7 linked regions of the Homo sapiens genome follow. The protein of the gene in region 5 purifies or fractionates together with the protein of the main gene of each other region. This does not show direct contact. Each region holds a gene or a part of one and is shown on either strand. Other genes may lie near its edges.

Evidence for each region.
Region 1: the proteins of NOL12 (region 5) and RRP8 purify together in Homo sapiens (affinity purification with mass spectrometry; 4 studies listed by BioGRID and IntAct, with this or other methods). This does not show direct contact.
Region 2: the proteins of NOL12 (region 5) and DDX27 purify together in Homo sapiens (affinity purification with mass spectrometry; 3 studies listed by BioGRID and IntAct, with this or other methods). This does not show direct contact.
Region 3: the proteins of NOL12 (region 5) and ZNF189 purify together in Homo sapiens (affinity purification with mass spectrometry; 3 studies listed by BioGRID and IntAct, with this or other methods). This does not show direct contact.
Region 4: the proteins of NOL12 (region 5) and ZNF689 purify together in Homo sapiens (affinity purification with mass spectrometry; 4 studies listed by BioGRID and IntAct, with this or other methods). This does not show direct contact.
Region 6: the proteins of NOL12 (region 5) and TUBA8 purify together in Homo sapiens (affinity purification with mass spectrometry; 3 studies listed by BioGRID and IntAct, with this or other methods). This does not show direct contact.
Region 7: the proteins of NOL12 (region 5) and BUD13 purify together in Homo sapiens (affinity purification with mass spectrometry; 3 studies listed by BioGRID and IntAct, with this or other methods). This does not show direct contact.

The regions. Positions count from the first base shown.
Region 1 is NC_000011.10:6,594,572-6,597,594, reverse strand, and holds the end of RRP8 (ribosomal RNA-processing protein 8), read left to right. Parts: 3' UTR 1-2,523; downstream 2,524-3,023.
Region 2 is NC_000020.11:49,232,916-49,236,415, forward strand, and holds part of DDX27 (probable ATP-dependent RNA helicase DDX27), read left to right. Parts: intron 1-390; coding exon 391-490; intron 491-652; coding exon 653-794; intron 795-2,019; coding exon 2,020-2,173; intron 2,174-3,234; coding exon 3,235-3,316; intron 3,317-3,417; coding exon 3,418-3,500. UniProt on the Homo sapiens protein: Probable ATP-dependent RNA helicase. Component of the nucleolar ribosomal RNA (rRNA) processing machinery that regulates 3' end formation of ribosomal 47S rRNA.
Region 3 is NC_000009.12:101,405,351-101,408,850, reverse strand, and holds part of ZNF189 (zinc finger protein 189), read right to left. Parts: exon of another isoform or gene 1,553-3,500; coding exon of another isoform or gene 1,546-1,552; intron 1,440-1,545; coding exon of another isoform or gene 1,319-1,439; intron 923-1,318; coding exon 1-922.
Region 4 is NC_000016.10:30,604,724-30,607,389, forward strand, and holds part of ZNF689 (zinc finger protein 689), read right to left. Parts: intron 725-2,666; coding exon 1-724. UniProt on the Homo sapiens protein: May be involved in transcriptional regulation.
Region 5 is NC_000022.11:37,689,343-37,691,658, forward strand, and holds part of NOL12 (nucleolar protein 12), read left to right. Parts: intron 1-1,354; coding exon 1,355-1,452; intron 1,453-1,831; coding exon 1,832-1,994; 3' UTR 1,995-2,316. UniProt on the Homo sapiens protein: Multifunctional RNA binding protein that plays a role in RNA metabolism and DNA maintenance. Participates in the resolution of DNA stress and the maintenance of genome integrity by localizing to sites of DNA insults.
Region 6 is NC_000022.11:18,117,309-18,120,808, forward strand, and holds part of TUBA8 (tubulin alpha-8 chain), read left to right. Parts: intron 1-3,500.
Region 7 is NC_000011.10:116,748,988-116,752,487, reverse strand, and holds part of BUD13 (BUD13 homolog), read left to right. Parts: intron 1-3,500. UniProt on the Homo sapiens protein: Involved in pre-mRNA splicing as component of the activated spliceosome. As a component of the minor spliceosome, involved in the splicing of U12-type introns in pre-mRNAs.

The sequences.
Region 1 (3,023 bases), on a different chromosome or scaffold from region 5:
TTTTTTTTTTATGGGAGGATGGGCAGGTTGTTAGCTGTCGAGTGCTATTGAGATGAGAGAGAACTCAGAATGCAGTGGGGTAAGGATTGCTGAGTAATGTGGAGGGCCTGTTTGAGGTAAATGGCAGTGGTAAGAGGTTGCTCCATTATGAAAGCCCTCTTCCAGAGTTCCTGATAGGGCCCCAGAAGTTCATTTCTGATTGCTTTGATTTTTTTTCAGGGGAGCAGGAAGCCAGTTTATCATTTGAGAGTGAGAATAGGGGAGAGGAAATATCTTCCAGGCCCACAGTGCATAGAAATACCCAGTCAGGGCAAAATGATTTATCTGTTTACCTCTCCTCATCACTTGGGCCCAGAGCAATCAGCAGTGATTAGGTAGAGAGGAGCCGAGCAGAGGGAAGAGCATACCAATCACTCCTCCCTTTCCCAGTGCAGGCTCCTAGACTTAGCTGGGGCAGAGCTGGGAGAGGAAAAAGGGATTTAAAACTGCAACAGGTGCAGATTATTGTTACACAGGATTAGACATTCTAATTAATTGAGATTATGTTTGTTCCTTAAACTGATCACAGGACTATCTATTAAGAACATCACAACCTCGCTGCAGCTTTTCTCCATAGCAGGGAGAGTACCTCCCAGTGAATAAAATTTGGAGGGTGGTAAGAGACAAGAATAAAATTGGGTTTGGTTATCCGTGCCTCATGCTTGTTCAGCATCCCTTTGAGAGTTCTCCAAATAAATAGTTACTGCTTCTGCAGTTATTGGTGTGCTCCAGCTTCTGTTCCCATAATATAGTCCAGTCCTAAGGGAACACAGTTCTAAAAGAAACAACATGATCTTGGCAGAGACACCGCTCAGCTCCAAACCCAACCATTTATGTAACTGCACAAAACTCTCTACAGCTTTTCACAGAGACCAGTAATTAGAACCTTTCATCCCCTGGTCATCCTCCTTCCCAGGTGAATTCTCTGACCAGCCATCTGGTTTTAGGATACCCAACTCCTGCAGTAACTGCCTTACTGGTGGTCTAATTGCTTCTACTCGTGTCCCTAAAGCAATTAATTTTCCACACAGCCATGTGATCTTTTTAAAATGTAAATCAGCTTATGTCACTTCTCTGCTTAAAATCCTTCAATGGATTCTCACTGCCTCGAGAACAAAAGACAAACTTTTCAGGCCCCGTGTGATCTTGCCCAGGCCTCCGTCACCATCACCATCTGCATCTTAACCCACTCCTCCCCTTTCACAAAACTCCAGCCACACAGACTTGCTTTTTATTCCTCAAGCTTTCCAAACTGTTTCTACTGAGAGTCTTTGCACATGCTCCATCTTCCTTGAATACTCTTTCCCCAGTGAGCTCATTTTCATCTTCCTGAATTCATACCACTATTACCTTTGCTTCTGTGGAAGAAACTGGCCAGATGCTCACCCAAATGTCCTCTTTCTGGACACAGGTAAACTGCATTTCCCAGCTCCATGCATCTAGGCCTATGTGAGTAGTTCTCAACAGTGGAAAATGAGTGGAAGTGATGTTTCAATACTAGACCAAGGCAGTTAAAGGGTGGCTGAGCCATTTCCATTATTCTCTTCCTCCTTCCTCTTCAAGGTAACCTTGAAGCACATGTTTTGACGGTGATGGAGTCATAGCATAGAAGAAGTCTGAATACCTGAGTTACTATTTAGGGCATAATAGCTACTTGACCAAAAACATCCATATTGGACTTTGAACAAGAAAATAAACTTGATTACATTCTGCTAGTGAGTTTTGAGGGTGTTTTAGCAGTTATCATTATATACACTGGATATATCTTCTATGGTATCCTGTCCACCTTACTCTTGACCACAGTACCCTCTTTGTTTCCTTCAGGGTGTTTCAGATATTTAATTATCTTGCCAGATGCCAGTCAACACTTTCTTTTTGTCCCATGAGTTTAAAATCAGGGGAAAACATGTACTCCCAATAGGAAGTTGAGATACTCTTTTTTTTTTAAATCCGTCATTGTGACTGTGACCGGAAAAACAAATCCCACTAAAGAATGTCCTAAACAGATGTTTTTTTTTGTCATATAACCTGGAGTTAGGTGATTTGGCATTGGTTCTGGAGCTGAAGGATGTTAGGGATGAGGTCTCTGTAGTTTTCTTGTCTCATGGTCACGAAATGAAGTGTTATTGATTAAGCAGGGATGCCCTACTTAGTATTAGACTTCTTGGAAGTCTCCTTAATTGCCACAGCCCCTATCTTTTTGGCTTCGTTTCAAGGGTCCTTCTACATTGTTAATACTCTGGTATAAATACGTTCCATTATTCCCTATAACATGACTGAAACCAATCTAAAGTATTAACATTTTAAATATGTTTTTGGGCCAAGTGCAGTGGCTCTTATCTGTGATCCCAGCTACTAGGAAGGCTGAGGTGGGAGGATTGCTTGAGCCCAGGAATTTCAGGCTGTAGTGAGCTATGATTGTGCCACTGTACTCCGGCCTGGATAACTGAGATCCTGTCTCAATAAATAAATAAAACAATTATATATATGTATAATATATAATATTATATATACATATGTATGTATGATGCTTTTCATCCCCACCCTTTCCCACATCTCAGGAACCTGTCAGCAACTTATCCAGTTTAAAGCTGCTGTTCCTCTACCTCAGTGGTTTGGGAGAACATGGTCATTATTTCACTCATTCTTTACTTCCTGTCTCTTCTAGGATTGGAATGGGGGAGGGCATATTAAACGAAGAAAGTCTCAGCTTACGTGATTAAGGTACCATTGGTGTGTTCTGTGCAGACAGGCATTTAACTGTTGACTCCTTTGTGAGCTCTTGGGGTTCTCTGGAGCTCTCCATGAGGACTGGGGCACTAACTGACTTTGGTTGCCTCTTTTTGATGCACAGCCCACACTGCCCTTCAGCTCTTCAGCCCCTGACCCTGACAATGTACCCACAGCCTCCTCGTGCTAAAGTGCTTCACCCTTGTACGCAGCTCTCCTGGGAATGGTCCCAACAAACCCTCAAGACTGGTTAC
Region 2 (3,500 bases), on a different chromosome or scaffold from region 5:
CTCCATCTCAAAAAAAAAAAAAAAAAGACACTTGGAACCTGGAGGCAGCTGAAGGAATTTGAACGTGGCCTGTGCTTTAGATATTCACGCACTTGAAAGTCTTGGGTGTGTTGATGAAGTTGTGTTTCTGTAAGAGAAGGTCCTAGTGCTTAGGAGTTGTGTGCTGAAATATTTGGGGTAAGGTGTTATAACATCTGTGACTGACTTGCCACAAAAAGACAAAGCAAATGTGGCAAAATGATAATTCTTGGTGAAAAGATAAAATAATAAAATAGATGAGTCCTAAATGTAACCAATGACAACAAACAGCAGCCGGTATGCAATCCCGTGTCCCTCACTGTGACCGAAGAGCACTCTCTCCATTTCTGCCATGTCTTTCTCTGCTCCCAGGATGCTGGATGAGTACTTTGAGGAGCAGATGAAGGAGATCATCCGAATGTGTTCCCACCACCGCCAGACCATGCTCTTCTCGGCCACCATGACAGACGAGGTGGGCCGAGGGACTTCTCTGTGGCGGGTGGCAGGTGTGCCCAGAGGGGGCCATGCAGAGGACCCTGGCTGGGCTTGAGGGGGTTTGCCTGGGGTGAGCACTGCTTCCTCCTTCCCTACCACCTTGCAGAGAGCTGAGGAAACCTGGCTTTGTGCTTGGCAGGTGAAAGATCTGGCTTCTGTCTCCTTGAAGAATCCTGTCCGGATATTTGTGAACAGCAACACAGATGTGGCTCCCTTCCTGCGGCAGGAGTTCATCCGGATCCGGCCTAATCGTGAAGGAGACCGGGAAGCCATCGTGGCAGGTGGCAGCACAGGGCAAGCCTGGGCAGGGTGGGCTGGTCAGCTTCCTTGAGCTCGTAGTATCCATGCTGAAGTGCTTGGTTTCCCCTGCGCCTCTGCCGTCCAGTCTTCCCCAGCGCAGAGGCTGCACTGCACTAATGATGATCCGCTGCCTCTCTTCTCCACGGGTCCTTCCTCCCTTTGCTTTATCGCCTCACCAATCCTCTTTGTGTCCTGTTCAACTCCCAACCACTTGGCATCAGCTGCTGTTGTACCCGTCAGTCCAGACCACTGTTCTCTGTCGCCTGGATCGTTGCGCAGCCTCTTGCTCGAGCTCCCTGCTTCCACTCGGCCTTTTGTGACTCTCTGCATTGCAGAGCATTTACAATGATTGCTTGCAGAAGACATTCGTACTTATTATGTCCTTATTTGAACACCCTGCGGTGGCTTCCATTGGTCTTAGACTAAAATCCAAACATCTTAGTTTTTTAGGACTCTTCGGGCCTGGCCCTTGCCTGCCCGGGATCCCAGCCTTGGAGGCTTGCTCATGGCTCCAGCCACATTCGCCTGCTTGCACTTTTTTTTTTTTTTCTTTGAGGCAGAGTCTTGCTCTGTCGCCCAGGCTGGAGTACACTGGCACGATCTTGGCTCAATGCAGCCTTTGCCTCCTGGGTTCAAACGATTCTCCTGCCTCAGCCTCCCGAGTAGCTGGGATTACAGGCACTTGCCACCACTTCTGGCTAATTTTTGTATTTTTAGTAGAGATGGGGTTTCACCGTGTTTGCCAGGCTGGTCTTGAACTCCTGGCTTCAAGTGATCTGTCCTCCTTGGTCTCCCAAAGTGCTGGGATTACGGGCATGAGCCACTACATCCAGCCGCCTGCTTGCACTTCTCACTATAAGCTGGTTCCTGCCTCCGGGCCTTCATGTTTGCCATTTCCTCTGTCTAGAATCTTCCCCTGGATCTTCCCATGGATCATCTGCCTTGTCATTCAACCTAATGTCACCTCTTCAGAGAGGCCAGCCCTTAGCTGCTTCCCCCTCGTCCCTGCACTCTCTCTCACAGCATTTTTCACCCCCCAGGAATTGGCTTCTCTGTATCCACCCTGGAATTTGAGTTCCACAGGACAGGGACAGTGCCTGTCTATCCAGTGCCAGGCACAGTGACCATACTTTGTGGATGAGGAGGGGGTACATGTTGAATAAGAGCCTAGAAACAGCTGCCAGCTCAGTCCTCTCTTCCTGCCAGCTTTGTTGACGAGGACCTTCACTGACCATGTGATGCTGTTCACGCAAACCAAGAAGCAGGCCCACCGCATGCACATCCTCCTGGGGCTCATGGGGCTGCAGGTGGGTGAGCTCCATGGCAACTTGTCACAGACGCAGCGGCTGGAGGCCCTCCGGTAACATTTGGGGTGGGGACTGAGGCTCCCACCATCCTTCTGGGGCAGAGAGGATAGAAGGAAGAAGAGGACCCTGAGCATTCTATTAGAACATTAGCAGGGGACACATAGCATGATCTTGGCCTTGAACATTTTAACCTAACCACTGTGAGGTCATGTCTTAGATGTGTTTAGAACTCTAACTTCATAGTCAGAGATGACCCTCATGTCCTTGGATGCTTGTCCCTAGCATGGGAGCTGTTGTGTGGCGTGACAGAGGAAGCTGGCTTGGAAAGGCAACACATGGTCTCTTCTTGGAAGCTTTCTGAGAGTGGTGAACATTCCTGGGTCTGATTGAACAAGATTTAGAGTCAAAGTTAGCAGCCATTACTTGAGCATCTACTTTGCCAGGCACTGTGCTGCGTGCTTTCCATGTGATTTCTTGTTTAGTCCTCAGAGAATGGCATCAAGGTGGTTGGCAAGGAGGAACCCTTTAGAACTCTCCACCTAACCCTGTTCATCAGTGGGTGCTGAAAGGTGTTTGTTAAAGATAGGCTGATTTAAACTGAGACAATTGCCTATGCTGTTAGCAGATACAGAACTACGTTTGCTCTGTATGATGGGTTGTTGAAGGGTGGGTGTAAATATCCCATGTGCTCACATTTAGAATCTATCCCTATTTTTTTTTTTTTTTGAGACGGAGTCTCGCTCTGTCGCCCAGGCTGGAGTGCAGTGGCGCAATCTTGGCTTACTGCAAGCTCCGCCTCCCAGGTTCACGCCATTCTCCTGCCTCAGCCTCCCAAGTAGCTGGGACTACAGGCGCCCGCCACCATGCCTGGCTAATTTTTTGTATTTTTAGTAGAGACGGGGTTTCACCGTGTTAGCGAGGATGGTCTCGATCTCCTGACCTCGTGATCTGCCCACCTCGGCCTCCCAAAGTGCTGGGATTACAGGCGTGAGCCACCGTGCCCAGCCTCTATCCCCATTTTAATGCCCTGTTCTGTCCTCTGCTGGCTCAGGCTCTTGTGGAGCATTATTAGGGGAGGGTGTCTGGATGAACAGCTGTTTGTGACTGTTTCTAGGCGTTTTAAGGATGAACAGATTGACATCCTCGTGGCCACTGATGTGGCAGCCCGTGGACTTGACATTGAGGGGGTCAAAACGGTGAGCAGACACTATCTTCCTTGGACTTTTGGTGGAAGTCTTTTTGCCTCTTCGCACCCCCCTTCCCTTGCCAGGCCTGACGTTCATTTTTGACCTTCTAGGTAATCAACTTCACAATGCCTAATACCATCAAACATTATGTCCACCGGGTGGGGCGAACAGCACGTGCTGGCAGGGCTGGGCG
Region 3 (3,500 bases), on a different chromosome or scaffold from region 5:
TCAATAAGGAATGAGCTCCGACTGAAACTTTTTCCACACTCAATACAAAGAAAAGGCTTCTCGCCAGTGTGAATTTTTTGGTGTTGTATAAGGTATGTGCTTAATCGAAAGGCTTTCCCACATTCACCACATTTATGGGGTCTTTCCCCAGTGTGAATTCTTTGATGCTCAACAAGCAATGAATTTCGACTAAAGCTCTTCTTACATTTGGTACAGTGATAAGGTTTCTCACCAGTGTGAGTTCTTTGATGCTCAATAAGGTGTGATTTCCAACTGAAGGCTTTCCCACAGTCACTACATTTATGGGGTTTCTCACCTGTATGAATCCTTTGATGTTTAACAAGGCTCCTTCTCTGGCTGAAGCTCTGTTTACACTGATTACACTGATAGGGTCTTTCTCCAGTGTGGATTCTCTGATGTCTAATAAGGGTTGAGCTCACACTAAAGGTTTTTCCACAGTAATTACACTCATAGGGCCTTTCCCCAGTGTGAATTCTCTGATGTTCAATAACAAATGAACTGCGACTAAAACTTTTCCCACATTCATTGCACTGAAAAGGTTTCTCACCAGTATGGACCCTTTGATGTTGAATGAAATGGGCCTTGCGGACAAAACCCTTTCCACATTCTTCACATTTATGGCATTTCTCTTCTGAGTTTGGTCTTTTACGGATAATGTTAGTGTTTTCTCTGAACATTCTCTGTTCCTGGGTCAAAGATTCCCTTGGTATTTCCCATAGGAAGATCCCTCTTTGTTTATCTAACCTACCAACAAGTTCAAATGTTTCTCTACCCATAGGATCCTGGTCAATTTCACTTTTGATTCTTGTAACTATTACACCCTGTGGTTCCACTTCTTCCTCAATTTCTTCAATCTCTTGTTTTACAGTTGGCTCCTCATCCTTATCTCTGTTCAAAACATCTGGAATAATAAAAAGGAAATACAAAGATCAACCAAGGTCTTTGAAGCAAGGAGAAACAAAGTAAGATGGGCAAACAAAGAAACAAATAAAGTCAAGGTGGGATTAATCAGTCTATCAAGGAAAACAGGGTAGGATGAAAAAAAACTCCACTAAGTTCAAGAAAATTAAGGATGAGAAAGCATTATTGGAATATGATCAGACCAAATAATTAACAGAAGGGACCAGATGCTAATGGCCAGGCATAGTGGCTCATGCCTGTAATCCCAGCATTTTGGGAGAGTGAGGTGGGAGGATCACTTGAGCTCAGGAGTTTGAGACCAGCCTGGGCAACAGTGAGACTTCATCTCTACAAAAAAAAAATTTTTTTTTAATTAGCCAGACATGGTGGTACACACCTGTAGTCCCAGCTACTCAGGTAGCTGAGGTGGGAGGATTGATCACTTAAGCCCAACAGGTTGAGGCTGCAGCAAGCTGTGTTTGCGTCGCTGCACACCAGCCTAGGCAATAGAGTGAGACCTAATCTCAAAAAAATAAAAATAAAAATAAAAAAAGATGCTAAGAAGGATAAAAGACAAAGATCCAGGGGAAACAATAATTCATTCATTAACAAGCATTTACTCACTGCCCATCAAAAGCACTCCAGAAACATTGTAATCAGCCAGGATTCAGAGATAAGACATGAAGCCCCCCTGCCAAATGGAATGGATGTTAAGTAAAAAATGGGGAAAGAAAATAATATGATAAAGAAAATATTAAGTAAAAAGCAGCTCCTGTATAAAGAGACAAAATGGCTTTTAAAAACAATAATAAAGGGTTAGGTGACAGAGAGTCTATGATATCGAGATGCAGAATAAAATAAGTATTAAGAAACATGGTCAGAGTTCATGGGAGCAACAACCAAAAAGGGCAGTCTGTGGTAGCTTATGACTTTACCTACCACAAATCATACCTCAAGTACATGTGATTCTAAACCCTCTAACAATATAAGACCCAAGGTTCACCATCTTGTTCCAACTGAGAGGCTGCATGACATCTGAGAAATGAAAATCTTGCATGTGTTGAAGAAAAGACAGCACAGTGGTCTATGATATAACAGAGTGTCATATAGTACATCTAGGCCCGCTTCGGACATCTTCCTGATTTTCCATCTCTTGCTGGAATAGATATTAGATAATTCCGCTAGAAGATTCAATAATGACCACATTTATATTTGGCCCTAAACAAGCTCCTTTTTCATACATCCTCTTTTCTCTCAATTTTTTGTGGAGTCATCTTTGAATTTTCTATTTGCTTACTTCATTATTTTATTCTAAAATAACCTTTTCCTATTCCCCTAAGAAACTACTAGAAATTTTATTTCTTCTAAGGCTTTTTAGTGTCCCCTCTCAAATTTTTCAGTGGGCTGTATTTTCTTTCACATAATGAAAAAACATGAAAGAACTCCCTCAACTTTCTGTCCTCTACCTATAAAATTATCTGCCAATGGTACATAAAGATATATCTGATTCTTATGCAAGGCTAATCCATCCATCACTTACCGATCCTACTCACCTCTGGGCATTTGCTTAATTATCCCGTCTTTCCTCTTTCTTCAATACACACTCTCTATTGACACTTTCCTACCATTACATAAATATGTCCAATTTTATCTTGAACCTGAAATCCTTCTCTTTATGAAAGCCAAGCATTGAAAAAAAATCTTAACACCGAGGTTTTCTATTTCTTATGTTTTCCAAGCCCAACCTCTTCCTATTCAATCTATTCTGCAACCTGTGGCGAAATCTGGTTTCTGTTTCCAGCATCTAGAGAAACTTCTCATTAGATTACCAATGACTCAAATAAAAATAAAACGGGCATTTTTTTTTTTTTTTTGAGACAGAGTTTCACTCTTATTGCCCAGGCTGGAGTGATCTTGGCTCACTACAACCTCCACCTCGCGGGTTCAAGCAATTCTCCTGCCTCAGCCTCCCAAGTAGCTGGGATTACAGGCACCCGCCACTGTGCCTAGCTAATTTTTTTGCATTTTTAGTAGAGATGGGGCACCATGTTGGTCTCGAACTCTGACCTCAGGTGATCCACCCACCTCAGCTTCCCAAAGTGCTGGGATTACAGAAGTGAGCCACCGTGCCTGGCCTAAAATGGGCATGTTTCAGTCCTTATGTTATTCAGCAGCATCTAACACTGTTGACCACCCCTATTTCTTGACATTATCTGTTTTTGGTTTCTACACTACCACATTCTTTTATTTCCTTCCCTACTTCTTTGGCCTTTTCTGATAAATTTCCCTCATTTATTTCTTTTCCTTTGTCAACTGACTTTTGTTATTGTTACCCACATTTACATCCTTACTTGTTCTGTATATACACCCTCCAGATATCTCCAGTTAAATGCCTCACAAAGGGCTCACAATTAACATGGTCATCATCATCTGCTTTCATGCCTTTCCCCACCTTTAATTATCTCTTGAAAGGCACCATCATCCATTACCCTATAGTCTCAAAGCAGCAATCATCCTGTATTTCTCCCTTCTTCTCACGTTAATCAATCATCCAAATCCTGGATTTCTCTCTAGCACCT
Region 4 (2,666 bases), on a different chromosome or scaffold from region 5:
TCGCAGGCATAGGGACGCTCCCCAGAGTGCACACGCCGGTGACTGACCAGGCGAGAGGAGGAGGAGAAGCGCCGCTCGCAGTCCGGGCACGGGTAGGGCTTCTCGCCCGTGTGGATGCGCTGGTGGATGACGAGGGCCGTGCGCTGGCGGAAGCGGCGGTTGCACTCGAGGCAAGTGTAGGGCTTCTCTCCCGTGTGTGTACGCTGGTGGATGGCTAGCAGGGAGGGGTAGGCGAAGCGACGTCCACAGCTAGGGCACTGGTGGGGTTTTTCACCTGTGTGTGTGGTCCGGTGATTGGCCAAGGACCGGCTCCTCCGGAAGCAGCGACCACAGTCAGGGCAGTGATAGGGCTTCTCCCCTGTATGGATGACCTGGTGCTGGGAGAGGTTCTTGCGCTGGGAGAAACGTTTGCCACACTGGTCACAAACATAGGGGCACTCGCCGGAGTGTGCCCGCCGGTGACTGACCAGCAGGGATGGATAGGAAAAGCGGCGCCCACAGTCTGGGCAAGGGTAAGGCTTTTTTAGATTCTGGGCGCACTTGTGGCTCTCCAGGGCCTGATGATCAGGGAAGGTACAGCCGCAGTCAGGGCAGATGGGGCCCCCGGACGTCTGCCTAGGAATCAGTCGGGGTTTGCTGGGCCTCCGGCCTCGCTTCCCCTTTCGGGGTGCCTCCTTAGGCGGGAATACTTCCTTCTCCCCATTCTTCTTTCTGGTTCTGCTTTCTATAGAAATACAGAAGCATTAATTTAACAAATACTGGGCTCCTGCTCTTGTCAATTACATTATAGGTTACAAGACCAATAGACTCACCCCCTGGTCTCAATTCCTAGTGCCACAGACAGCTAAGTGTGACATACTGTCATGCAAATACGGTGTGCATTACAGGAGCTTCTAACCCAGCTTGGAGAAGTCTAGGAAGATTTCTCGGAGATTAAACTAACTTTAAAAATTGAGGCCGGGCACAGTGGATCACGCTTGTAATCGTAAGCACTGGGAGGCCGAGGCGGGCAGATCACAAGGTCAGGAGTTTGAGAGCAGCCTGACCAACATGGTGAAACCCTGTTTCTACTAAAAATACAAAAATTAGCCGGGCGTGGTGGCACGCACCTGTAATCCCAGCTACCCAGAAGGCTGAGGCAGGAGAATCGCCCGGGAGGCAGAGGTTGCAGTGAGCCGAGATTGTGCCACTGCACTCCAACCTGGGCGAGAGAGCGAGATTCCATCTCAAAAAAAAAAAAAAAAGGAATATTTTTGAAGAGGTAAGCTTACATCATTCAAAAGTCAAAATATCAGCCAGGCATGGTTGCTCATGCCTGTAATCCCAGCACTTTGGGAGCCCAAGGCAAGAGATCGCTTGAACCCAGGAGTTCAAGATCAGCCTGGGCAGCATAGTGAGACCCCATCTCTACAAAAAATACAAATATTAGCCTGGCCTGGTGGCACGCGTGCCTGCCTGTAGTCCTAGCTACTTGGAAGGCTGAGGTAGAGGATTACTTGAGCCCAGGAGTTCAAGGCTACTGTGAACCATGATGGCACCACTGTACTCCAGCCTGGGCAACACAGCAAGACCCTATCTCAAAAAACAAACAAGTCAAAATATTAATAAAGGAATACAGAGAAGTCTTGCTGCCACCTTTTTCCAATCTACCTTGTAGAAACCATATTAGTTTTTTCCCATTTTTTTGATGCAATACAAATGTCACCTTCCCTATCTTTCTTTCATAAGAGATTGCATACACATGCTTTACAGCGTATGTTCTCTTCCCCACCTTTCTTTTTTTTTTTCTTTTTTGAGACAGAGTCACGCTCTGTCACCCAGGCTGGAGTGCAATGGTGTGATCTCAGTTCACTGAAATCTCCGCCTCCCGGGTTCAAGTGATTCTCCCTGCCTCAGCCTCCTAAGTAGCTGGGATTACAGGCATGCACCACTATGCCCAGCTAATTTTTTGTATTTTTAGTAGAGTCAGGGTTTCACCATGTTGGCCAGGTTGGTCTCGAACTCCTGACCTCAGGTTATCTGCTCACCTCTATCTCCCAAAGTGACTACAGGCGTGAGCCACCATGCCCAGCTCACCTTTCTTATACAAAAGACAACATATACACACCTTATACACACTTTACATTTTTTCACTTAATATATTCTAAAGATCATTTTATGTCAGCAAATCTTTTTTCTATTTTACAGCTACACAGAATTCCATTGTGGATGGTTTATTTGACTTAGCTGATTCTTTAAAAAATGTGGCTGGGCGTGGTGGCTCATGTCTGTAATCCTAGCACTTTAGGAGGCTGAGGCAGGCGGATCACCTGAGGTCAGGAGTTCAAGACCAGCCTGGCCAACATGGTGAAACCCCGTCTCTACAAAAATATAAAAATTAGCTGGGCACAATAGCAGGTGCCTATAATCCCAGCTACCCAGAGGCTGAGGTGGGAGAATCACTTGATCCTGGGAGGCGGAGGTTGCAGTGAGCCAAGATCACGCCATTGCACTCCAGCCTGCATGACAGAGTGAGACTCCATCTCAAAAAAAAAAAAAAAAAAAAAAAAAAGAATTAAAATTATGCAGTGTTAGAAACGTAAGTCCCAGCCAAGCGCAGTGGCTCATTCCTATAATCCCAGCACTTTGGGAGGCCAAGGTGGGCGGACTGTGAGGTCAGGAGTTCG
Region 5 (2,316 bases):
GTATGAGGGTGAAAGTGGTTAATCCATGTGAGTCACCTGGCACAGTGCCCAGCCCTGTCATAAGTGCTTCACAAAAGGTAGCCGTTTGTTGTGATCGTTCCCTTTGTGCGATTCGCAGCCCTGGCACGTCTGTGTGCACTAAGTGGGTTTTCAACCTGTGGGTTGTGAATCATGAGTAGGTTGCAATCAGCATAAAAAAAAAATATAATTGAAAATATCCGAAAGTGTCATGTTAAATATTGTTTCATGAGACAGCTGTTTCCACTGGAGTTGTATCTGGGTGTGCCTAAGGATTTATGGACATATATGCACACAATTACGATATAAAACACATTTCCTTGTGTGGGTTACTGTGTTCTTAAGTCCTGGAGCCACTCCCCTATCACATCCATACTGATCTCAGGGCCAGGCATGGTGGCTCACGCCTGTAATCCCGGCATTTTGGGAGGCCAAGGCGGGCGTTATCACCTGGGGTCAGGAGTTTGAGACCAGCCTGGCCAACATGGTGAAACCCCGTCTCTATTAAAAGTAAAAAAATTAGCCAGGGGGCCAGGCGCAGTGGCTCATGCCTGTAATCCCAGCACTTTGGGAGGCCGAGGCGGGCGAATCACCTGAGGTTGGGAGTTCGAGACCAGACTGACCAACGTGGAGAAACCCTGTCTCTACTAAAAATACAAAATTAGCTGGGTGTGGTGGGACATGCCTGTAATCCCAGCTACTCGGGAGGCTGAAGCAGGAGAATAGCTTGAACCTGGGAGGTGGAGGTTGTGGTGAGCCGAGATCGTGCCATTGCACTCCAGCCTGGGCAAAAAGAGCAAAACTCCGTCTCAAAAAAAACTTAGCCAGGCATGGTGGCGTGCACCTGTAATCCCAGCTACTCGGGAGGCTGAGGCAGGAGAATTGCTTGAACTCAGGAGGCGCAGGTTGCAGTGAGCCACGATTGTGCCACTGCACTCCAGCCTGGGTGACAGAGCGAGACTCCATCTCAAAAAACAAAACAAAACAAAACCATACTGATCTCACACCGGTCTTTCATTTTATGCTCACTATTCTGCAAGTTCTGATACAAAGACAAGTCTTGTCCCCGTTTTGCTAGGATTTTCATTCCTGAATGTTTAAGTATGTCCTGGAAGCTTCTAGGGGCAGGAAAGGGTTTGGAAACAGACCTTCCCCTGTGTAATCCTTGCTTTAGGGCAGATAGACTTCTTCCATCAGAAGCCTTCTCTAGTCCCAACCCAGGCCTGTGATGCAGCAGGGCGCGCCACCACTTGCCAGAGCCATGGTGGCTCGGGGTGCCCAGCCCAGGTCCCCCCAGCTACTGCTCCATGTAAGTCATTGTCTTGTGCCTCTTTAGGGAGGGGCTGGAGACAGGTCTGAGGAGGAGGCGTCATCCACGGAGAAACCAACCAAAGCCTTGCCCAGGAAGTCCAGAGACCCCCTGCTCTCTCAGCGGTGAGTCTTGGCCTGCTGCCTCCCCGGTCCCACCCCTCCTGGCTGGCAGTAGTGACCTGGCCCTTAGGGTGGTGTGGAGCAGGTGTAGGGCCCGGAGCAGCCCTCTGCCTGTCCAGTGATCCTCTGCCTCTCCTCATTGCCCCGTCCTGTCCCACCCACCCCTGATAGTGTCTGACCTCCAGTGCTTTTCGTGCCTGGGTGAAGGGCCTGTGTCTCTGAGCTGAGTTGCTGGCAGGCACTCTGGAGGTAGAGCAGGCCAACTCTGGCATGAACTTGGCGGTCCTGGCATTCGCAACCTGTCCTGACATCCCCTCCGTGAGCCAGGTGGTGAGTCACCCCACAATGCAATCTTAAACTGAGGCTTTCTGCCCTCCCCTAGGATCTCCTCCCTCACAGCATCACTACATGCACACAGCCGCAAAAAGGTCAAGAGGAAACATCCCCGACGGGCCCAGGACTCCAAAAAGCCCCCAAGGGCCCCTCGTACCAGCAAGGCCCAGCGCCGCCGTCTCACAGGCAAAGCACGGCACAGCGGGGAGTGAGACCGAGAACGAAGCGGTGCCCCAGTCTAGGCTGCGGGGACCTGTCCTTGCTCAGCTTGGCTGTCCCTGTAGCCCAGCCTGCACCTAGGTAATGACTGCACAGCTCAAGGTTGGGAAGCCAGGACCTCTCTGGCCTGGGGCCAGCTGCCTTTGCCTGGGGTCAGCTGCCTTTGCCTGGGGTTTGAATTCCCGAAGGAGCAGGCAGCTGAGAGCAGGCCTCCCCCAGGAAGAGCCTTCAGAGCCACGTGGGGGCATCTTCCCAAATGTGCACCCCACCTGGCACTCATCAGATTTGTGCGCTTGTGATTTGTTTGTCCTTGAT
Region 6 (3,500 bases), about 20 Mb from region 5:
ATTTTTATGAATACGCTGAACAAAGCAAATCAGTTTATTTGTCCCCCAAATATTTTGATTTGTTCAAACAAGAATTCAGTCAGAGTCCCCATGATGCGTGTGGTGGTGCTTGGTGGTGCCTTAGTTCCTTTGACATGGGACAGCCCCTCCCAGCTCTTCATTTCTCATGAGTTGAAAAGGCTGGGCCAGGCCCGATGGCTCACGCCTGTAATCCCAGCACTTTGGGAGGCTGAGGCAGGTGGATCACGAGGTCAGGAGATCGAGACCATCCTGGCTAACATGGTGAAACCCTGTCTGTACTAAAAGAATACAAAAAATTAGCCGGGTGTGGTGGCGAGCGCCCGTAGTCCCAGCTACCTGGGAGGCTGAGGCAGGAGAATGGTGTGAACCCGGCAGGCGGAGCTTGCAGTGAGCCGAGATCGCACCACTGCACTCCAGTCTGGGCGTCAGAGTGAGACTCCGTCTCAAAAAAAAAAAAAAAAAAAGAAAGTAAATAAAAAAAATTAAGAAAAAAAAAGGCTGGACCAGCTGCCCTGTAGGATGTCTCACCTTCTGGATTGATTTTGTTTTCTCTGATATCACTGAACTTAATTAACCCTCTGATCCCTGTGTTTCCTGTGAAGTGGAAACTGAATCTACAGGGCTCAGTGATGAGGGCTGAGTATTTTTGAGAAGAAGTCCTCACTGGTGGTGTGTGTGTCACATTGCGTCCCATCAGGAGGTCCTCGATGTCGGGTTGGCCCACAGTTAGCGATGCTGAGATTGATCGCGGCCTTAGGCTGGCGACCCTGGTAGTTACGTCCCCCCTTGTGACTATAACAGTGGTTCTTTGGCTCTCGGCGAAGATCCAGTTCCCCATCAGTCTTTCACCTAATGGTGTTGGCGTTCTTGTCCAAATCAATCACGTAATTAGAAGATGGAATAGGGCAATATTTGATAATCTATTATTCGGTCCACATTGCTTAGCAGACATTCTTCAATTAAAGAAAAAAGAGCCTTCTCTAACTAACGGGGCTGTCTGGATAGGGACAAATGAGTTTTTCTCTGGGGGTTTTCTTTGAGGACTTGTGGGTTTTCATCTTGCATCCTGCTTCACTCAAATGCTGCCATCAGTACTTGTGAGGCTCAGGTTGTCTCATCTTAGGCAGCAGGAGCCTCTTCAGGTGCTTGGGCAGCCCCTTGGTTAGCCTCCGTGCCTCCAGGCGCTATGCGACATTCCAGGCTCATCTAGCACACTCCCCACCCTGGACCTGGACGCCTCCGTCTCTCCAAGGAGCCCAGTTCCTGTTAGCAGGGATCTTCCTTCTCTCTTGATTGGTGTAGCTACTTTTCACTTTTGAGAGCACCTATGAATCTGTCAGTCATTTCTGAGTCTATTTTATGCCTCCAATTATTCTTATGAGCTAGTTCAATAGGAAAAATAGCTCTTTCTAAGGGGTGTGTGTGTTTGCACGACGGGGGCGGGGGAGAGAGAAAGAGACAGACATTTTGTAAAAGACTGGCATATGTATTAGTGTGAGATTAATGAGGGCATTAAAAGAGGCTAAAGACGTTGTCACCATGCTAGTGGTTTTCAGGTCCCCCAAATCCTTGACTCTTCCTCCCATGATCTTCGATTTTCCCAAAATATCCCTGCGTCCTCCCTGGAAAGCCCCAGAATGTTCCAGAAGTGAGAGCAGGCTGGGGGCCGGGCAGCACTGTAGGCAGGACTAGAGGGTGGTCGGGATGCGGTGGTGGTGAGGGGGCGACAGACCCAGAAGGCTGAGGGTTAGGACCACAGAGGACACTGTCACTTAGAAGGAAAATACATAGGATCAGGCCCCCCTCGGGCCTCTCCAGTGTCCCCTCAGCTTCCACACCTCCCTGGGAAGTCACAGCCACATGCTGAATGTGACGCCGTGGTCTGGGTGGATAACTCGCTGGTTGTGGGTGGTTTCTGGATGCAGATGCTGCTTTCCTTAGGCCTGAATTGAGCCCTCAGATGGAGGCAGAGAATAGACCCCACAATAAAGGAGAGAGGAGCAGGGACCTGAGAGCTCCCTCTACGTGTGCTACTTCCCGGTGCAGAAAAATGCTACCAGGTAGTACCGTAATGAAAATGATAATGGCAAGACAGCATCAACAACTGTGGCTAACTTACACTTTTCAGATGAGGAGAGGCTCAGTAACTCAGCCCAGGCCACACAGCACAGCAAGTAAATTGAGAAGGCAACATGGGAACCTGGGGCCGTGGGCAGCTCTGTGGGTGAATCCCCTCCCTAGCCACCAGGCTCACGGAGATCCAGCGGGTTGCGACCCCCGTCGGGCTGCCCCACGCTCACCCCTGTGCTCATCCTCCCTCAAGGCAAGGACCAGGTGTCGCTCAGCTGTAGCACAGAGACAGGACTAGAGTGGGGGCACAGTTGTAAAATTGAACTAGGGGGCAATGGTCCTGATGCTCTGACCCCGCAAGATGCTACTCAGGGCAGCTGCCCTGCTCTCCATGCCCAGAATTTCTTCCACGTCTCCAGGAGCCCCACACTTTGACGTGGACTCTACTGGCTTCTGTGCCCAGCCGTGCCCTCTGGAGGCTCTGCCCCTGGCTTGGGTTACCCGGAGCTGGAAAATGCCAGGGCAGGTCATGGGTAAAAATAGAAACCCACAGACCTGGCACATGCTTCCTGCTGGGCTCAGGCGGCTGCCCCAGGCACAGTGTCGCCTTGTGTGGGCCACTGCTTCCCCAGGGCAGGGTGTGGGTGGGAGGATGAGTCTATCACGCCTACGTGTGCACGTGCACACACACACACACACACTGTCTCTCTCCCCACCCCCCTTTTTCTTTAATAATTTCAACTTTTATTTTAGATTCAGGGAGTACATATGCAGATTTCTTACATGGGTATATATTGTGATGCCAAGGTTTGGGGTACGATTAATCCTGTCACCCAGGTAATGAGCATAGTACCCAATAGTTAGTTTTCCAATCTTTGCCCGCTTCTTCCCTCCCCGCTCCAGTAGTGCCCAGTGTCTACTCTTGCCATTTTTCTGTCCATGAGTACCCATGTTTAGCTCCCACTTATAAGAACATGTGGTATTTGGTTTTCTATTCCTGCATTAATTTGCTTAGGATAATGACCTCCAGCTGCATCCATGTTGCTGCAAAGGATATGGGTTCATTCTTTTTTGGGGGCTGCGTAGTATTCCATGGTGTATATGAATGACATTTTCTGTATCCAGTCTACCATTGCTGGGCACCTGGTTGATTCCGTGTCTTTGCTGTTGTGAATAGTGCTGTGATGAACGTGTGAGTGCAGGTGTCTTTTTGGTAGGATGATTTTCTTTTGGATATATACCCAGTAACAGGATTGCTGAGTGAAATGGTAGTTCTGAGTTCTTTGAGAAATCTCCAAACTGCTTTCCACAGTGGCTGAACCAATTTACATTCCCATCAGTGCACTCCCCATCTTAAGCTGTTAGTACGAATACCAATCAGGCAATTGTGGCTTCACATCAGCTTTACT
Region 7 (3,500 bases), on a different chromosome or scaffold from region 5:
AATTTGTCTTCATTTTTCTCAGTTGCTTTTTTCCACTTCTTGTTCTGATTTTATCCTAGATTTCTTCTCTTATTTCCCTTTGTCACCCTTGCTTTCTTTTTGTTATTCATCTTTCATCATCTTTTCTAGTTTTGTCTCTTTTCGGCCTGCTGCAAGGGAATATTTCCGGAACAGATATATAGTATCTGTTGGAAAAACCCATAAGATAATTACCCAGCCTCTCTTAATTGAAAGAGAAACGGGGCCGGGTGCGGTGGCTCATGCCTATAATCTCAGCACTTTGGGAGGCCGAGGCGGGCAGATCACGAGGTCAGGAGATTGAGACCATCCTGGCTAACATGGTGAAACCTCGTCTCTACTAAAAAAAATACAAAAAATTAGCTGGGCGTGGTGGCGGGCGCCTGTAGTCCCAGCTGCTCGGAAGGCTGAGGCAGGAGAATGGCGTGAACCCGGGAAGCGGAGCTTGCAGTGAGCCGAGATCGTGCCACTGCACTCCAGCCTGGGCAACAGAGCAAGACTCCGTCTCAAAAAAAAGAGAAACTGAGGCCCAATAAATAAGCAGTTTGCCTAGAGTCATGCAATTTCCCTGAGAAAGCTGGAATTAGAACTCTGCGTTCCTGATTCTCTGGTCCAAAGCTCTTTCCACTGTGAGTTCTCCTGCAATTTGTTTTCTGATTCTGCTTAGGATTTGGTGTTTGTTATTCATATGTCCTTTGTATTATCATATTAGTGTAACTCTCTTAAGACCTTATTTCCAAGGTAAAAAACAGTGGTTTCCTTGGTGCTTTGGAATACCATCCATGCTTCTAAGGTTGGAGAGGATGCCATTTATAATAAGCTTCCCTTCTTTTTTTTTTGAGACGGAATTTCGCTCTTGTTGCTCAGGCTGGAGTGCAAAATGGCACGATCTTGGCTCACTGGAACCTCCGCCTCCTAGGTTCAAGCAATTCTCTTGCCTCAGCCTCCCGAGTAGCTGGGATTACAGGCGTGAGCACCACGCCCAGCTAATTTTTGTATTTTTAGTAGAGACAGGGTTTCACCATGTTGGCCAGGCTGGTCTCGAACTTCTCATCTCAGGTGATTCACCTGCCTCGGCCTCCCAAAGTGCTGGGATTACAGGCGTGAGCCACCATGTCCGGCCAAGCTTCCCTTCTTAAAGCCCTCTGTTACTCACTCCACTCATCCCTTAAGGGAAAGTCTTAGCATACATGTTATAAGTGTAAGCAGCTAGGTAGTAGGTACTAGGGATTCCATGATTAAAGAGAGATAGCCCCTGAGCCCAGGAGCTCACTTTCAATCTAGAATAGAAGACAGACAGTTTCAACGCTGTTTGGTTAGTGTTACTATAGAAGATTTTCAAGATGTTTTGGGAGCACAAAGGAAGAGTAAGTTGAGCCTTAGGAGGATGTGAGTGATCAGGAAGTGCTTCCTAACGGATGAAATGTGGGAGCTGAGTTTTAAGGGATGTTGGTAACCAGCCAAGATAAGAAGGAAAGGAAGGATATTAAAGGAAGAGGGTCCTATATGTGCAGAGTCATAAGGCTATGAGACACCATGGTGTTACCAGGTGGTGGGGGTCCCTAAGTAATTTGCTGTTGTTGGATAGCATAAAGCGTGAGATGGATGAGAGAGGTTGGCAGACCGTGATCACAGAAGGCCCTGGAAGCCTATCTGAGGAGCTTGGTCTTCACCCTAGAGGTAAAGGGGAGACACGGAAGGATTAAAAACAGCTCTGCATTTTAGATAGACAAATCCATTATAGCAGTAATATGAAGGATTTGAAAGGTACAAGATTGGAAGTAGAACAGATACAAGGCTTTTGCAGTAGCTCAGGCTGAAAGTAATGAGTGTCTGAACTACGACTTGCAGGCAGTGGTAGTAAGGATGGTTAGTAAGAGAATAGGAAGTGGGGATGTGGTCAGGGGTGAGCTGGTGGGACCTGTTTGCTGATTTGGGGAAGAGGAAGGAGGAGTCATTGGATTTGGCAACAAGGAATGTCAGTGATGACCTGAAAGGGCTAGTTCCGTTGTGTAGTGAAACAATGGCCAGGTTCTAATGTATTAAGGAGTGAATGAAAAGTGAGGAAACAAATAGTGAATACAGGCTTTTTAAGAAGTTTAGATAAGAAGACCAAGAGAATGCATGGTAATTAAAGGGATTTGAGGTCCACTCACTACCTCCTTGAAATTCACCCCTGTATTGTTTTCCATGACACCCTACTCCTGGTTCTTTTCTCTGATCATTCTTGGCCACCTTTGCAAACTCCTCTTCCTCTGTGCACCTCTTAAGTCTTTCCCAGGGCTCCATCCATAATTTTTAGCTGTTCTCACTCTATGTGCTCCCTCTGGCTGATTCTTACCTAGTCATGTTTTCAACTATGACCTATATGTACATGATTTCCAAATCAGTATTTGCATCTTGGTCTGGTGTATTTAGCTGTTTGTTGGATTTCTCTATTGATTTAGACTTGAGAGATTTCAAATGCATTGTATTCAAAGCTGAACTCATCAGCTTCTACTGTAAGCCTGCTCCTACTCTTGTGCTCTCTAACTTGCCTCCTCCTTCTTTGTCCTTGTGTACCTAATCAATTAGTGCTGCTAATTAGTCTTACTAATTTTGCCTCCTGTGTCTTCTCTCTTCCGTCCCTCTTTATCATTGCCTTCATCATCTGTTGCCTGGACCATTGCAGTGATTTTCCTGCCCCAGATCCCCTCCAGAGTGATCTCTTTGAAATGCAGTTTAAGTTCTTGCTTTAAACCCATCGTTTCTGGATGAAATCTAAGCTTTTTACCATGGCCTACGCAGCTCATTATGCATTGGCCTCTGCGCCTTTCCAACTTTGACTCATGGCTGTTCCCTTTGTCATACTTCAGGTTCCAGCCATACCAGTTTGCCTTTGGTTTGCTGCACATACCAGGCCACTTCTTATTTCCGTGCCTTTGTTCTTGTTGCTCATTCTGTTCTGAAATGACCTCCAGACCCTTTCTGGCCCTTCCATCCCCAGTGCTGTAGTTAACACAGAGCCTTTACTGATCATTCTTGCCCAACCCTCATGTCACCTTTTTATCATACCTCCCCCAAGCTGATTAAGATACCCATTCTGTTTCCATGACACCCCATGCGTATTTCTACCAGAGTTTATGCTGTTCTTTTAATTTATTTGTTTAAATGTCTCTCTCTTCCACTAGTCTGGGAGTTCATCAGGACAGGTGCTGTGTCATACTCATTTTCATGTAGTGTCTACCATGGTACCTAGTATATAATGAAAATTCAATAAATGTTTGTGTAATGAATGGATAAAATATAAGATGTGGACATCAGCTGAGAGAGAACCAGGCTTTTAGAGTGGCAAACGTTTGAAATAGCTGTCAGAGTGGGGGAAGGGTGTGAACAAGGACTAAGAAAAGGATGAATGATATATTTTGTCCCTTTGATTCTATTGCATATGCCTTAAATATTTTCTTTTCTTTTTTGTTTCTTTCTTTCTTTTTTTTTTTTTT